Regions from separate parts of the Homo sapiens genome. Here region 2 is linked to region 1. The links come from fine-mapping of genetic effects on gene expression. A gene starts in region 1. The other region holds a variant in brackets. All regions are shown on one strand. Distances are from middle to middle.

Region 1 (8,326 bases):
GGACTTCTGGAAGAGGAACCAGCCAGCAGCCAGCCTCCTGAGAGGAGCTAGAGGTCTGGGGGTTCTCACCTGATCCTTAGCTAGAAAACTAGGGCTGGGCTCAGGGCGTGCCCCAGGGCTATTTTGTTCCATGCCATGTGCCGCTCCCAGGAGAAGTGGTACTTCTCCCTCCTGACTCTGTCCCCACCTCCCTAAACAAGCCTGTGGCCCTTTAACAAAGCCCAGAGTCCCATTAAAGATCCTGCCTGGTGCTGGTCCTCAGCTACATGGACTGGGTGGCCCTTTTTATAAGGAATGGCAGCATCAGTTCCCCCTTTCCAGCGGCCTTCTCCACAGGGCTGGCCTGACTCCCCACAGCACTCACCTGGGCAAGTGCGGGCCCATTCCCCGGCTGTCCTCCTGCTGTCCCCCGCAGGTCTTTCTCAGCATGGTGAACATGGGAGCCGGGGCTCTGTCTGCATGAGGGAGGTGCTCAGACCCTGCAGGGCGGGAACAAGGTGGAGGAAGTCGCTGGCGCTGCAGAAGCTGGGCAGTCACCCCCTCCACACCCACTACCAGGGAAGGGGCAGGAAGCATCAGGGGAGTCACCTGCTCTCGTCTGAGAGGGAGGTAGAGGCAGAGGGAGGCTAGAGAAAGACAAAGAAGGCAAGGCGGGGCAGAGGCAGGGAAAGCCCAGCAAAAGTGGGTTGGAGGAAGAGACAGAAACAGGGACGAGAGAATGAAAGAAACAGAGAGAGGCAGAGAGACAGGGAAGAGAGGAGAGAGGAAGGGAGCCAGAGAGAGGAAGAGAGAGCTGGTGAGATGGGGAACAGAAGGATATGAAGGCAGGGGAGGATGAAGACGCAAAGAGAACGAGGTGGAAACAAAGAGAAAGGGAATTCCAACCAACAGTAGGCACTGAGAAAACGGCTTTCCATGCTATTTCATTCAACCCTCAAAACAAGTAGGTACTACTGCCATTCCCATGATGTGGATGAAGAGACAACGGTTTAAGAGATAAAGAGGCAGGAGAGAGAAAATATGAGGCAGGAATACAGACAAGACAGAGACTGCGTATTCAAGGATCAAGAGACAACAGGCTGGGCGTGGTGGCTCACGCCTGTAATCCTAGCACTTTGGGAGGCTGAGGCAGGTGGATCACCTGAGGTCAGGAGTTCGAGGCCAGCCTGGCCAACATGGTGAAACTTCGTCTCTACTAAAAATACAAAAATTAGCTGGGTGTGGCGGCGGGCGCCTATAATCCCAGCTACTTGGGAGGCTGAGGCAGAAGAATTACTTGAACCCAGGAGGAGGAAGTTGCAGTGAGCGGAGATCGTGCCACTGCACTCCAGCCTGGACAACAAAGCACAAACTCTGTCTCAAAAAAAAAAAAAAAAAAAAAAAAAAAGACAACAACAACCCAACAGCCTAACTGCCCATAACAGCATAAACTTGAGAAGAAATGCTGTCTGTCTCCAGCAACTAGAAGAATGCCTGACAAAGAGCAGGCCTCCAGTTAACAACTGTGGAATGAACAAGCAAACATTATCTGGACTATGCCGTCAGGGAAATAAAAGAAGCCTTGGAAACTGCATAAAACGAGGAGTGACCAGGAAAGGCTTCAGGCAGGCAGTCTATCTGAGCCAAACCTGGAGGCATGCAGAGGGCAGAGCAGCGGCTTTGGCCATGCAGCAAACCAAATATCTGGCAAGGGCATGGAGACAGAAGGTGGTGGAGGGGGTGTGGAGGCAGTCAGTAAGTTCTGAGTTGGCCCACGTGAGGACCAGGCCTACTATTCTTTGAGAATCTGCAGTGTTGGGCTTTTGAAAAGACTGAAGCTCAGGGCGTAACCTTCAAGGTGGGGGTTTTCTTAATGACCACTGCCATTCTCCAGGTGACAGCCAAGAACCTGAACTACGAATGCAGGAGCCGGACAGGGGGAAAGGGACGTCTAAGACTCATCCTCTTGTTCGTTCAACCTGTTGAAGTGGCAGGATTGCCAGTTCCTGGACGCTACCTGCAGGGCTCCAGTGTCCCCTGGAACCTGGGAGGTCAAGGTTGCCCAGGCAGGGCTCCAGGGAGGTGTCTCCATGGACCGTCTGGTTTCCAGCCTGAAGGATTGATGCCCTTGTTGCTCTGAAGGATCCAGAACATGAAGGGAGGAGCAGGTTTTGTTGGAAAGCTGAGTTCACATTTGAACTTGTTGCAGAACCTGTGGGATTCCTGAGAGGCGACAGCCAGGGGCATTTGGATAAACTCTATGAGAGCTCCAGAGAGGGCTGGGCTGGAAATAGATTTTGCAGCTGGTAGCACAGCAGGTGAAGCCATGGAGATCATACAGATTACAGCCTAGAAGCTAGAGAAGAGGGCCTAGCAAAGAAATGTGGGGCACAATATTTAAGAAGACAATATTCGCCGGGCACGGTGGCTCATGCTTATAACCCCAGCACTTTGGGAGTGAGGCAGGTGGATTGCTGGACCAGCCTGGGCAACACTACAAACATCTCTCTCTACAAAAAAAATACAAAAATCAGCCAGGCATGGTGATGTGCGCCTATAGTCCCAGCTACTTAGGAGGCTGAGGTGGGAGGATCACTTGAGTCTGGGAGGTCGAGGTTGCAGTGAGCCATGATCGTACCACTGCACTCCAGCCTCCAGCCTGAGACAGAGTGAGAACCTGTCTCAAAAAAAAAAAAAAAAAAGACAACATTTAATATCCAGTTGTGAAGAGCCACTGCCAGAACCTGAGAAGGAATGGTGGAACAAGAAGAGCAAGAAGACTAGACAGAGAACAATTTTTTGAGATAAGGTCTCACTCCCATTGTCCAGGCCAGAGCACACTGGCGTGATCTCAATTCACCGCAGCCTTGACTTCCCGGGCTCCAGTGATACTCCCACCTCAGCCTCTCGAGTGGCTGGGACTACAGGTGCGGGCCACCATGTCTGGCTAATTTTTTGCATTTTTGGTAGAGATGGAGTCTTGCTATGTTGCCCAGGCTGGTCTTGAACTCCTGGGCTCAAGCGATCTGCCTAACTCAGCCTCCCAAAGTGCCGGGATTACAGGTGTGAGCCACCGTGCTCTGGCAAGAACAATGTTTTAAGAAGCATGAGGATGTTGAGTATCAAATGCCGCAAAGTTCGGGTGAGAAAACTGAAGAGTCTACTCGGCAATCAGGAGTTCATTGGAGACTCTGGCAGAAGTTTTCTATAGTAGAATGGCAGGAAATGTAGCCATACTGAAATTTTGTTAGGGACAAACAGGTGATGAGGAAATGAAGAAAATGAGAATGAAGACTGTTTTTAAGAAACTGGAGTGTGAAGAAAACAGTAGGACAATAAGTAAGAAACCTCAACGGGGTGTGAGGACAAGTTCCCCAGGATAAAGTGGATAAGATGGAGGTTGGCACTTAAGATTTGGAGCAGGTTCAACAGAGAGGAATGGCAAGGTTTGAGGGATGGTTCCTGACGTCTAAGGGCGCATTTAATATTCTTTCAAGGTTAAGGTGGGGCAAGATCTGGAGGAGAGAGGATAGTACCCCAAGTGTCATCATCCATTGACAGGTCAATAGGTAGTACAGCGACATGGGAACAGAGCAGGTGTGCACAGAAAGCATGGTTTCCCAGGGAGGGCAGTATTTTTCCATGAGGATGCAAGAGTGAAAAGCCTGGGAGATTCCACGAAGAGCTGAGGGGCTTCTGAGCCACAGCTTAAACCTTAACCCTCCTCCTCTCAGATACATTCAAATCCAAGTACTGATAATAATCTAGTAAGACCTGGGCTTCCCTGGCTACCGTCTATCAAGGAATGCCAGTGTCTGCCTCTGGGCAGTGCGCGTTGGATTTGGGTTCTCTGCGGGGTCTTGCTGATCTTAAAGACAATGCAGGGGCCTTGTGAGTCTCACCTCTGTACCCCCAGCACATAACAGGTGCTCAACACATTCGCGAGGGGAGCGCTGAGCAAAGCGGAGGCCCGGGTTCCCTCCTGGAGAAACCTGCTTCCCCTCCAAGGCCTCAAGCGTCCGCTCCTTCACTGACCTCAATCGTTGATTTCGGCTGCACTTCCTATCCCTGGGGGAGCTTTCAACGCTCCGCCGTCCAGGCCGCCGGGCCCCGCAGCCCGCGCCCCGCTCTCTAGGGCTGGGCCCCCAGGGGCTGGACGACCTCTCTCGCCTTCGCTTTCTCAAGCGTAAATCGGGCGGCGGGGGCTGCAGAGCCTTCATCTCTTCCTCCGTCCCGGGATGTCGGAGAGACGGCAGCCCAGCCTCCGCCACCGCAAAGCTGCTTAACGGGCAGCGCGAGTCCCTCGGGCACCGTTGGAGGCCGTTGCTCACCGTTGGGCAAGTGCTTTAAGAAGCACGAGGATGTCGAGTGTCAAATGCGGCAAAGGGCTCAGAGCTCGCCGCCAAGGGGCGTGGCCTCCGGGCCGCGGCGGCCTCTGGGAGTTGTAGTCCCGCCTCAACTTGTGGTGGCCTCTTTAAAAAAACAAAAAACAAACAAACAAAAAAACACTGGCGCTTGGGTCCGTCGCTGCCTCGGTGTCCCTGTCGGGCTTCCCAGCAGCGGCCTAGTGGAAAAGTAAAAGATGTCTGAATATATTCGGGTAACCGAAGATGAGAACGATGAGCCCATTGAAATACCATCGGAAGACGATGGGACGGTGCTGCTGTCCACGGTTACAGCCCAGTTTCCAGGGGCGTGTGGGCTTCGCTGCAGGAATCCGGTGTCTCAATGTATGAGAGGTGTCCGGCTGGTAGAAGGAATTCTGCATGCCCCCGATGCTGGCTGGAGAAATCCGGTGTATGTTGTCAACTATCCGAAAGATAACAAAAGAAAAATGGGTGAGACAGAAGCTTCATCAGCAGTGAAAGTGAAAAGACCAGTCCGATTTAATAGTGTTGGGTCTCCCATGGAAAACAACTGAACAGGACCTGAAAGAGTACTGTAGTACCTTTGGAGACGTTCTTATGGTGCGGCAAAGCCAAGATGAGCCTTTGAGAAGCAGAAAAGTGTTTGTGGGGCGCCGTACGGAGGACATGACTGAGGATGAGCTGTGGGAGTTCTTCTCTCAGTATGGGGATGTGATGGATGTCTTCGTCCCCAAGCCGTTCAGGGCCTTTGCCTTTGTTCCATTTGCAGATGATCAGATTGCGCGGTCTCTTTGTGGAGAGGACTCGATGAAAGGAATCAGCGTTCACATATCCAATGCCGAACCCAAGCGCAATAGCAATAGACAGCAAGAAGTGGAAGATTTGGTGGTAATCCAGGTGGCTTTGGGAATCAGGGTGGATTTGGTAAGAGTAGAGGGGGTGGAGCTGGTTTGGGAAACAATCAAGGTAGTAATATGGGTGGTGGGATAAACTTTGGTGCGTTCAGCATTAATCCAGCCATGATGGCTGCCCCCCAGGCAGTGCTGCAGAGCAGTTGGTGTACGATGGGTGTGTTAGCCAGCCAGCGAAGCAGCCAGGCCCATCGGATGATAACCAAAGCCAAGGCAACATGCAGAGGGAGCCAAACCAGGCCTTCGGTTCTGGAAATAACTCTTGTAGTGGTTCTAATTTTGGTGCAACAATTGGTTGGGGATCAGCATCCAATGCAGGGTCGGGCAGTGGTTTTAATGGCGGCTTTGGCTCAAGCATGGATTCTAAGTCTTCTGGCTGGGAACGTAGACAGTGGGGTTGTGGTTGGTTGGTATAGAATGGTTGGAATTCAAATTTTTCTAAACTCATGGTAAGTATATTGTAAAATACATATGTACTAAGAATTTTCAAAATTGGTTTCTTCAGTGTGGAGTATATTCAGTAGTATTTTTGACATTTTTCTTTAGAAAAAGGAACAGCTAAAGGAATTTTATAAGTTTTGTTACATGAAAGGTTGAAATATTGAGTGGTTGAAAGTGAACTGCTGTTTGCCTGATTGGTAAACCAACACACTACAATTGATATCAGAAGGTTTCTCCTGTAATATTTTATCCCTGGACTTGTCAAGTGAGTTCTTTGCATGTTCAAAATGGAAGCCATGAATTAGAACTACATTCTTTATTCCTTGTTTTAATTTGAACCCCACCATATGGATTTTTTTCCTTAAGAAAATCTCCTTTTAGAAGATCATGGTGTCACAGTTTGGTTCTTTTGTTTTGTTTTTTAACACTTGTCTCCCCTCAAACACAAAAGTACAATATGAAGCCTTCATTTAATCTCTGCAGTTCATCTCATTTCAAATGTTTATGGAAGAAGCACTTGGTTGAAAGTAGTGCTGTAAATATTCTGCCATAGGAACACTTCTGTCTACATGCCTTCTCATTCAAGAATTCGTCATCACGCATCACAGGCCGCGTCTTTGACGGTGGGTGTCCCATTTTTATCTGCTACTCTTTATTTCATAGAGTCGTATCAACGCTGTGAACGCAAGGCTGTGATATGGAACTAGAAGGCTGTTTGAACTTTTGAAACCTTGTGTGGGATTGACGGTGGTGCTGAGGCATGAAAGGCTAGTATGAGTGAGAAAAGGAGAGAGCACGTGCAGAGACTTGGTGGTGCATAACGGATATTTTTTAACTTGGCGAGATGTGTTTCTCAATCCTGCGGCTTTGGTGACAGTGTGCAGACAGCAATGATAGCAAATAATGTACGAATGTTTTTTGCATTCAAAGGACATCCACATCTGTTGGAAGACTTTGAGTTTTTGTTCTTAGATAACCCACTTTATTTGAATGTGTTAAGTGAAATGATACTTGTACTCCCCCTACCCCTTTGTCAACTGCTGTGAATGCTGTATGGTGTGTGTTCTCTTCTGTTACTGATATGTAAGTGTGGCAATGTGAACTGAAGCTGATGGGCTGAGAACATGGACTGAGCTTGTGGTGTGCTTTGCAGGAGGACTTGGAAGCAGAGTTCAGCAGTGAACTCTGGTGTCTCAAAGAAGGGTAGAAGTTCTAATGTCTGTTAGCTACCCATAAGAATGCTGTTTGCTGCAGTTCTGTGTCCTGTGCTTGGATGCTTTTTATAAGAGTTGTCATTGTTGGAAATTCTTAAATAAAACTGATTTAAAAAAAAAAAACCAAAAATCTAAGTAAAGGGGTCGGAACTACATCTCCCAGGAGGCCCCGCGGCTCGCCTCTGGCGGGGCGGGGCTGGAGGGGGCGTGGTCAAGGCCTCGGCTCCTCCGAGCGCCTCCCAGCTCACGGCGCCCCCCGAACCCGGCTCCAAGGGACTCGGTATTCCCCAGCGCCGGCTCCGGGCAGTCCCGGAAGGGCTCAAGGGCTGGGCGACTGGCTGATCGAGACCGTCCGGGTCCTGGCTCTCGGGTCACTTGCAGAGGCCTGAGCAGAGCGTAGGGAGGGCTGGAAGGGAGGAGCCCCGGGGGGCGGCGGTGCTGAACCGGGTAGAGTCTTGAAGGTCACGGTCAGGACTGGAGTGGGAGGGGAGTCAGAGGCCTGCTGCGGAGGCCCAGGTTAGAAACGAGGCTGCCTTGGACTCGGTCGGTGGCAAAGAAGACGACACGTGGAGGCAGGGCTTAGAAGTAGAGCTCCGCCGGGCTTGGTGGCTCACGCCTGTAATCCCAGCACTTTGGGAGGCCTAGGCGGGCAGATCACGAGGTCAGGCGATCGAGACCATCCTGGCTAACACGGTGAAACCCCGTCTCTACTAAAAATAGAAAAAATTAGCCGAGCGTGGTGGCTGGCGCCTGTAGTCCCAGCTACTTGGGAGGCTGAGGCAGGAGAATTGCTTGAACCCAGGAGGCGGAGGTTGCAGTGAGCCTAGATCTCCCCCACTGCACTCCAGCCTGGGCGACAGAGTGAGACTCCGTCTCAAAATAATAATAATAATAATAAATTAATAAATAAAAATAAAAAAGAAGAAGAAGTAGTGCTCATGGGCTTGACTGATAGGACGTGGGATGGCAGGAAGAGGGTGAACTTGAGGGTGACATCTAGATTTTTTTGCTCAATCCATGGGGTACCAAGAAGTGGTAATGCCTGAGGATCTGTTGTTTTGGTGGTGGTGTGAGCCCATCTGACATCTAAGTGCAGTCACTGAGTGGACAGGAGGATACAGAGGAGCCAGCCGCCTGGAGAGGGGCTTTGAATCAAGGGCATGGGATTGGCAAAACGGGCCAGATGGTGTCACTGGGTGTGGGGGCGGCAGGGAAGGCTGAGGACAGAGCCTTGGGAAGAACACGTCCAGTTGGAGGGCGGCAGGGAAGGCTGAGGACAGAGCCTTGGGAAGAACACGTCCAGTTGGAGGTCGGCAGGGAGGAGCATTGAGTACAGGGGACTGAGGATGGCCGATGAGGTAGAAAGAAGGCTGGTGTGGTGCCCTTGAGACTGGAGAAGGAGCCTCCAGATGGA
Region 2 (8,326 bases), 76 kb after region 1:
GGGGTGGAGGGGTCCCTGCTCCTGCTCAGGACTCTGGATGTCGCCCCCAGCCAGGTCACTGTGCCCTTTGGGGCAAGCACTTGTTCAGGTGGTTTGGGCCCTTCCTCCTCTGATGCCCAGAGGCGCCCAGGTTTGAATGTGGGGCTGCCCTACCAGAGCTCATGTTTTCCTATTGATGAAGATGAGGCTGGGCCCTGTGTGTCACCCGGTGCAGACACTGAGTCCTGCCACCAGGACGTCCATCTGTGCTGGACTCATTAGAGTCCTGGCCCTCATGGGATGAGAAACGACGTCCCCTGTCCCCAGCGTTCACTTCCTGCGTCCCCAGCATTCACTTCCTGCTAGCACCTGAGACCAGCGACTTGGGTCTCATGGTGCCTCCCACTCCGGTTTTCCAGCTCCCATTCTTCTTTGTCGTCTCCATGCGCCCGCTCAGGACTCCTGAGTTCTCGAAAACTCAAAACTCATCACACAACTGTCCCTCCCAGGCAACTTTTGATGGCATCCCATGACAGGGATAGTGGAGGCTTTTTTATTTCTAGGAATTAAGTTCTTGTCATCTTGGGCTACAGGTTTAGGGCTTCTCCCCAAGGCAGTTCGGAACTCACTCAAAGTAAGAATCATTTCCCCCTTCTCCCAAGGATGCACTTCACCTGATCCTGTCCAAGGCTTCTCATGGTTGTTTTTACTCTTTTCTCCCCATTTCTCCTCCCTCTCCCCAATATTCAGGACATAAAGGTTTCAGGCCATATTTATCTAACTCCAGAGATGACTTTCCTTTAGGACATCTTATGTCGGCCAACAGAGTGCAGTGGCGTTTGCTGCCTCATCTGAGGAGGGCTCCCTGCAGACCTGTGGGCGGAGCTTCTCCTACTGGGAATTGCCCCTCCAGGGCATTGGAGGGGAGGCCAAGGCCTATGACACCCAGAAAAGCCGTTTCTAGCCCTGGCAGCTCTGTACCAACAGCTGCATGGCCCAGTGTGGGGGGTGTGTGTGTGTGTGTGTGTGTGTGTGTGTGTGTGTGCTATCAGCAGGGACCAGCGTCTTTCACTGGCATCAAAAGACTGACCCATTTTCAGCAACAATATTTTTGCAGCCGACGAAGCCTTTGTTAGGTTTGTATAGGCGACCAGTTGAGCCGGGTTTGTGTTTTAGAGAAGTGGTGAAGTCTTAGCAGGTGGGAAGGAAGCTCGGCCATGGCTCTCCAGTGAACTCCCCCGTCCTTTCTTCCTGGAAAATTTCCAGGACCCCATCTGAAGCGTCCCCTCCCAGGACTGACTCTGGTTTGTCTCTTTGCTGGGTTAGGTAGGAGGAAGGCTAGTGGGATGACCATAGCTGATTTTTGTCATCTACTGCTCAGTCTGGATTCCCCACTTCCTCTGCTAGCACCTCTGCTGCGCTTGGGCACCCACCTGGCAGGAGGACACAAACCCTCATCCCAGCCACTACACGCTCTTCAGGCTGCAACTGCTGTGCTTGTCCATTTCCCACCAAAACTGGGCAGGAGCGTGCCAAGTGATGCCCCAGAAGCCAGCTGTGTGCCAGGGTGATTCTCCTCCACCCCGGTTCCAGCAGCCCTTCCTGCTCTTGAGGATCAGAGCCAGTCACCCCTGCTGGGACACCGACTCCTTTCCTTGCTTGCTCGTCTTTTGGCACAGAGCCTGAGTGACCAGTGACAGCCATCGCTTATTGTCCACTGGATCCCCTGGTGGCAGTGTTCCCCCTCTAGAGAACAGGCCTCTAGACCTGCAAAGCACAACATGGAGGGGACGAGAAGTTCAAATTCACCAACTGGATCCCTGGAGGTCATGGTTGGGGGCTGTTCCTGCTTCTGCTCCTGGGTTCCCAGACCCATGCCTTTCATCAGCTGGAGACAGCAATTTATGATGGTCACTGATTTAGGGTATATTTTGTGTCTTAAAGGATGGAATCCCATCCTCAAAGGGTATTTTCTCCTCAGCAGAGCTAACAAGAGGACCACTCCATCACTCACCCAGATTGGCAGCATCTGAACGGCATGGTAAGGAATGGGCCCAGTGGAGCCCACGGTCATGTACCCAACACCATAGATCCTTTGCTGTAAAGTGAGTCTTTTTGGTCCAAAGCAATGTTATGTGGTATTCTATATCCATCGATCAAACATTTTATAAACCTCCAGATAGTGTTCGTAAGGGCAGGAAAGACAAATCCACACTTGGGATATCCAAATCCACACTTTGGGTCAGTCAAAATGAATCACTGCCTCACCTTTAGGGCAATATAATTGAGTTTAAGTCCAATGTAATCAACCTTCCACCTAGTGGCCAGTTGAGTTCCTCCCGGTGGCACTCTGCTGGGAGCTCAGCTTTGGTGTCTTGCTGTTAAGCTGGATGTTTAGCAGTTGCTGGAACTAACTCAGCCTTGGCGAGTTGGAGGCCATACTGTCAGGCCCACACCATCCTGCAACCCTGCCACCACTGCTACTCACTGAATGGCCTATGACAGAGGCAGGCTGACTCCGAACGGCCAAAGCATCTTCCTACATGGCTGCTGGGTGCCTTTTCCATGGTGGTGCTCTCTGGTGGCTGTTAGCAGGGATACAGAGACCTTCACATGCCTGTCCACTCCCATGGTCCTAGCTGCATGCATGACCCTTCCACTAAACTCCTGGTCCCCAACCTTTGAATTTTCCAGGCCCAGAGCAGCAACAGCCGTCTTTTGCCGCTGTCCATGGGTCTGAACATATTCTTATGCCAAGCCACTTCTCTTTCTACACAAAATGGAGAGCTACGTGTACTGCCTAAGCATGGTGGGCAGAACGGTGGGCCCCCACACACGCCCATGTCTGGAACCTGTACATCTGTTTTGGTACAGGGTAAAAGGGACTTTGCAGATGTCATTACATTGAGGATCTTGAGATGGGAACATTATCCTGGATTATCTGGGTGGCCCAATGTAATCATAAATGTCCTTATAAGTGAAAGAGGGAGGCCGGGTGTGGTGGCTCACGCCTGTAACCCTAGCACTTTCAGAGGCTGAGGCGGGTGGATCACCTGAGGTCAGGAGTTCGAGACCAGCCTGACCAACATGGTGAAACCCTCTCTCTACTAAAAATACAAAAAAAATTAGCTGGGCCTGGTGGCGGGCACCTGTAATCCCAGCTGCTCGGGAGGCTGAGGCAAGAGAATCACTTGAACCCAGGAGGTGGAGGTTGCAGTGAGCCAAGATCGCACAATCGCACTCCAGCCTGGGCAACAGAGCGAAATTCCATCTCAAAAAAAAAAAAAAAAAAAAAAGTGGAAGAGGGAGCCAGGAGGGCCAAAGTCCGAGAAGAAGGCGTGGCCATAGAAACAGACGTTAAAATGATGTCGTTTCTGGAAAGGGTGCATGAGCCAGAGAATGCAGGTAGCTTCTAGAAGCTGAAAAAGGAGAAGAAATGGATTCTCCCCTAGAGCCTCCAGAAGGATTACAGCCCTGACCACACCTTGACTTCAGCCCAGTAACACCCAGTTTCAGCTCTGACCTCCAGAATTGTAAGAGATTCCATTTGTGTTGTTTTAAACTCCCAAGTTTTTGGAAATTGGTTACAGCAGCAACAATGAACTAATACACCAAGTTTCTGTCCATGGGGAGATTGGGAGAGGCAGTCTGTCAGCACTGCCTTTCAGGGAGGCCCCGGAGTGAGGCTGCAGTGCAGCAGCTATCTATTTTTAGGCATTTTTTGCATCCCACACTGAGCCAACCCATGCATGAACCAAGCTCGGCCTATTTCTTCCTCCACTAGGTGGTCATAAGTGACACCGCCACCCAACACAGCAGTGATGAAGGTGAGGGACCTCCAGTGGTGCAACAGAGGCAGATGATAGGAGGGTCTTGTGCAGTTTATCTGTGGCTCTGGCCCTGCATAAGCCCAGTGCTGGATGTGCCCTTTCATCTTATCATAGATTTCTGTCGAGCATGCCTGACCTATGCCCTGGAGGCCCTGGCAGAGCCCGGCTCAAGGCAGGCAGCTCTAGTGGTGTGATCACCGCTTGGTGTCTTCCGCTCTGCTAGGGTGCAGAGGCATACCAGCATCTGTCTTCCTTTGCTGCAGATAGCGTGGCCTTACTCCAGAACCCCCAGGGTCCAGGTTGTGATTCTCCCACTGGGGGTTTGCCATGAAGTTATCACACACTCAGAGATTTAAAGCAACAAGGCATCTTTTCCACCATAGGTATCTCTAGAACCATAGCATCTTCCAGATCATTTGGCCTAATTTGCTGGATTGCTAGCACCATAGCCTGTGCCCACTGCAGCGTTCTTCCCCATGCTGGCAGCCTTTCACACCACCTGGTAAATGTGACCACGCAGTATTCCCAAGTGTGGCACGTGCTGCCTCCAGAACCCACAGAGGCGACCAGTCCTCGTGGTCCTTCTTAGTGGTGGGAAGTACACAATGTAGTCCTTCCTTCACTGTGGAGATGCCTGTTAAGCTCCAACCACTGGGCCCCTAAAAACTTCACCGATGCAGCAGACGCCTGGAACTTCACAGGGTTTCTCTCCCACCCTCTGCAGCACACGCACCTTAATAAGGCCTCTGAGGTTTCTCCTCGTCAATCTGGTCATCCAGTTTAATTAATAGGATATCAGTATACTGAACCAGTGCAGCATTGTGCAGAGTGTCTGGTCCATCCAGACTATATTAGGAAAGAGGGAAAAGAGTTAATATGGCCCTGGGGTGAGACAATCAGTGTGT[ATTCTTC/A]TTCTTCTTCTTCTTTTTTGTTTTCTTAAGACGGAGTCTCAATCTGTTGCCCAGGCTGGAGTGCAGTGGTGCAATCTCGGCTCACTGCAACCTCCACCTCCCAGGTTCAAGCGATTCTCCTGCCTCGGCCTCCTGAATAGCTGGGATTACAAGCGCCCACCGCACCCGGCTAATTTTGTGTATTTTTAGTAGAGATGGGGTTTCACCATGTTGGCCAGGCTGGTCTCAAACTCATGACCTCAGGTGATCTGATGATCTGCCCACCTCAGATCCAAAGTGCTGGGATTATTGGTGTGAGCCACCGTGCCCAGCCAATGTGTACTCTTATCCATCCTAAATGAATGTAAGCGGCTTCTGGTTCTCCTCTTAAGTAGGGATGGAAATGAATGTATTGGCTTCCTACCATGGACTTGAGATTGTGTTGACCTGCTATAGCAAAGATACCACAATTGGGGCTCCTATTTGTTTGGGTTTGCAGTATTCCACTGTCAATCCCCAGGATCCATGTGGTTTTTGCAGGGGTTTGGCTAATTAAATGACTCTATAATGGGGAGAAAGTATACCTGCATCCTTCAGGTTTTAACAGTGGAATCTATTCGTCCCTTATAATTGCTGTAACTCTCTTCAGCATGCAATATTGGTTTTTATTTACTGTCTTGGCTGGGGGAGGGGCAGTGTCAGGGATTCCCACTCAGCTTCCCAGGTCTATAGCTCTTATTCCACAATCCCAAGTATCTGGCCAACATGGGGTTACCCCATATGCCAAGTGTGTCCACTTCAATCATTGCATTTGAGGGCTCGGGAAATGACCACCAGGTGGCTCCATGGACCCTGTGGACCTACCAAAATCCAAAGTGGGGCTAGGGCTCTATCACCTGACCCCGTATGCCCTCCCTTTAACAGGAGTCAAGATGATGCTCCATGTCCCCAGGATTCTGTGTGCAATAGTCCTTGAAATGGTTCTGTATTCCCCCTCCCTGTGTATAGTTACTTGAATGAGTGGCCTTAGGTTTCTTTGGGGAAGGACTGTGGGGGAGATTTTGGCTCCCTGCACCGGCAGTGATGTTGGGAACCTGGCCTTTCAATGAGTTCTAGGTCCAAAACCAGGCAAGGGATTGTAGCGGGGGACTGGGGCAGCCACTCTCAGCCTCCTGCTCATCCATGTTTGATTTATTTTAGTTTCGAAAGCTCGGCCACACCCTTGCTGACTGCTCATTCCCCTGGTCCCTAGGAACATTTTGTTGTATTATCCGGCCGCATAGCTCTCTGCATGTCAGGTCTTCCTGGCTACCACTCTGACCTTGCCACTCTTGGCTATAAAAACCAATATTACATGCCAAATATTGTCACTTTGGTAAATGAAGTGACCTCCGAGCCCTCTCACAGGACACAGTGGGCTGGTAGGTTTGCTGGCCCAACATCACGTATGTGCTCTAGTAGGCTCATTTCCCTACCATCCTCCATGGTGGGGCTGGAAGTTTTCCTTCACTTAGTGAAGGCCATAGCTCTTTGCAGGTGTCCAAGAGCCATTCTAACAGCCCATTAGCACTGTCTCCCTGGGACCCAGCCAGGGTCACAAGCTTCTATCACGGAAAGTCCTCCCACATTCATCAACTCTTGTCTTATCCGTCTTTATATTCTGTCCCCTGCTGGGTCCAGCACTCTTGGGATGCAGTCCTGGATGTGCTCTCCTGGATCTTGCTGGTCCATGCTAGGCAGATCCTGCAGTTCCTTCGGAATAGAGTCCCTCCCTCCCTTAGCAGGCCAGCATGTCCTAGCTAGGTTATGTTGTTGTTTGACCCTCATGATTGGTCTGGTGTCAGGAGGGGGATATTGGCATAGATCCTGAAAAACGCATGCATTGTCTTGCAAGGCAGACATCTCTCTCTCTCTCTCCCCCCGCCCCCCAACTATAACACACACATTCTCTCTATATAAAACACTTCAAGAAAGGGGGTGCTAGCCTTTAACAGGAGCAGTGGGCCTCCTCTGTAGGTCCAGATGATTCAGGAGAATCTGGGGATTCTAGTTTGTTTGTTTGTTTGTTTGTTTGTTTTTGAGACAGTGGTCTCTCACGCCCACCCTGGGGGCTTCAGTTGAGCCGGTCAGTGGTGATTCAGCTCCGAAATCTCAATTTAGGGTCCATTTCCTCTGACCACTTCTGAGAGCAACTCTCTTGGGTAGAGATCTCTGGGAAACTGGGTTTGCACCCCCAACTCCATCAGCCCTTGAATGCGGGTGCCCATAGGGAGCAGGAGGCACAGTAGGCCCCTTTGGCTAAGTCTCCCCAGAAGGGAACCTGGCTGTGAGCCCACAGGGATCACTGCTTCTGGCAGCTGGGGCAGTGTGGGCCTCAGCCCTGAGTGGCACAGCACCCACCACAGGGCCAAGGCAGCCATAGCTGAGAGGGCCACGCCTTTTTTTTTTTGAGACGGAGTCTCGCTCTGTCACCCAGGCTGGAGTGCAGTGGCATGATCTCAGCTCACTGCAAGCTCCGCCTCCCGGGTTCATGCCCTTCTCCTGCCTCAGCCTCCTGCGTAGCTGGGACTACAAGCGCCCGCCACCACACCCGTCTAATTTTTTGTATTTTTAGTAGAGATGCGGTTTCACCGTGTTAGCCAGGATGGTCTCGATCTCCTGACCGCGTGATCTGCCCGCCTCGTCCCCCAAGAGTGCTGGGATTACAGGCGTAAGCCACTGCGCCTGGCCAGGTTTTGTTTCTGGCGCCCGGCTGCGCCACTCCTTTTTAAAGACTTCCTCCTTCCTCCTTCAGGCACCCACACGTTCATGCAGCCAGTATTCATGGGGTGCCCTGAGGAGACATATGGACCCTGTCCCAGCCTTCCTGGACCTTGTGCACTAGCTGGGGAAAGTCATGCCCTTGTTTAAGCATGGGCCAGGGGGAGCTGGACAGCACCGCCGGAGCTTGGAGGAGGACTCCTGGGGTCAGTGGGAGTCAACTGCAGGCTTTCAGGGAGTGGCAGGTGGGATATTTCAGGTTGGAGGGCTCAGTCAATTTACCTTCAACAAAAGTGCCAAGAGGCCAGAGGTAGTGGCTCACACCTGTAATTTTGGTATTTTAGGAGGCTGAGGTGGGAGGATAGCTTGACCCCAGGAGTTCAAGAGCAGCTTAGACAATATAGCAACATCCTATCTCTACAAAAAAAAATAAAAATTAGCTGATGGCCGGGCGCAGTGGCTCACGCTTGTAATCCCAGCATTTTGGGAGGCTGAGGCAGGTGGATCATTTGAGGTCAGGAGTTTGAGACCAGCTTGACCAATGTGGCGAAACCCCATCTCTACGAAAAACACAAAAAAATTAGCCGAGCGTGGTGGCACATGCCTGTAGTCCCAGCTACTCGGGGACGCTGAGGCAGGAGAATCGCTTGAACCCAGGAAGTGGAGGTTGCAGTGAGCCGAGATCGCACTACTGCACTCCAGCCTGTGCAACAGAGCGAGACTTCATCTCAAAAACAAACAGACAAAAAATTAGCTGAGCATGGTGGCACACGCCTGTAATCCCAGCTACTTCAGAGGCTGAGGTAGGAGGATTGCTTGAGCCCAGGAACTTGGGGTTACAGTGAACTATGGTTGTGTCATTGCACT

What was found. PIP is the estimated chance that this variant, and not a neighbour inherited with it, causes the effect.
Region 2: its variant is fine-mapped to the expression of LINC02610 in whole blood (INTERVAL, PIP 0.98).

The regions. Positions count from the first base shown.
Region 1 is chr2:238,227,320-238,235,645 of GRCh38, forward strand. LINC02610 (long intergenic non-protein coding RNA 2610) reads right to left here and starts at 4,358. Exons shown (of 3, transcript NR_026926.1): 1 at 4,015-4,358; 2 at 365-479. It also overlaps the pseudogene TARDBPP3. RefSeq lists an enhancer at 6,923-7,424 and silencers at 7,125-7,254, 7,405-7,494.
Region 2 is chr2:238,302,836-238,311,161 of GRCh38, forward strand. No RefSeq gene overlaps it. Among named protein-coding and RNA genes, the nearest start is that of TRAF3IP1, 14 kb to the right of the region's middle. The variant ATTCTTC/A (reference allele first, on the strand shown) is at 4,715.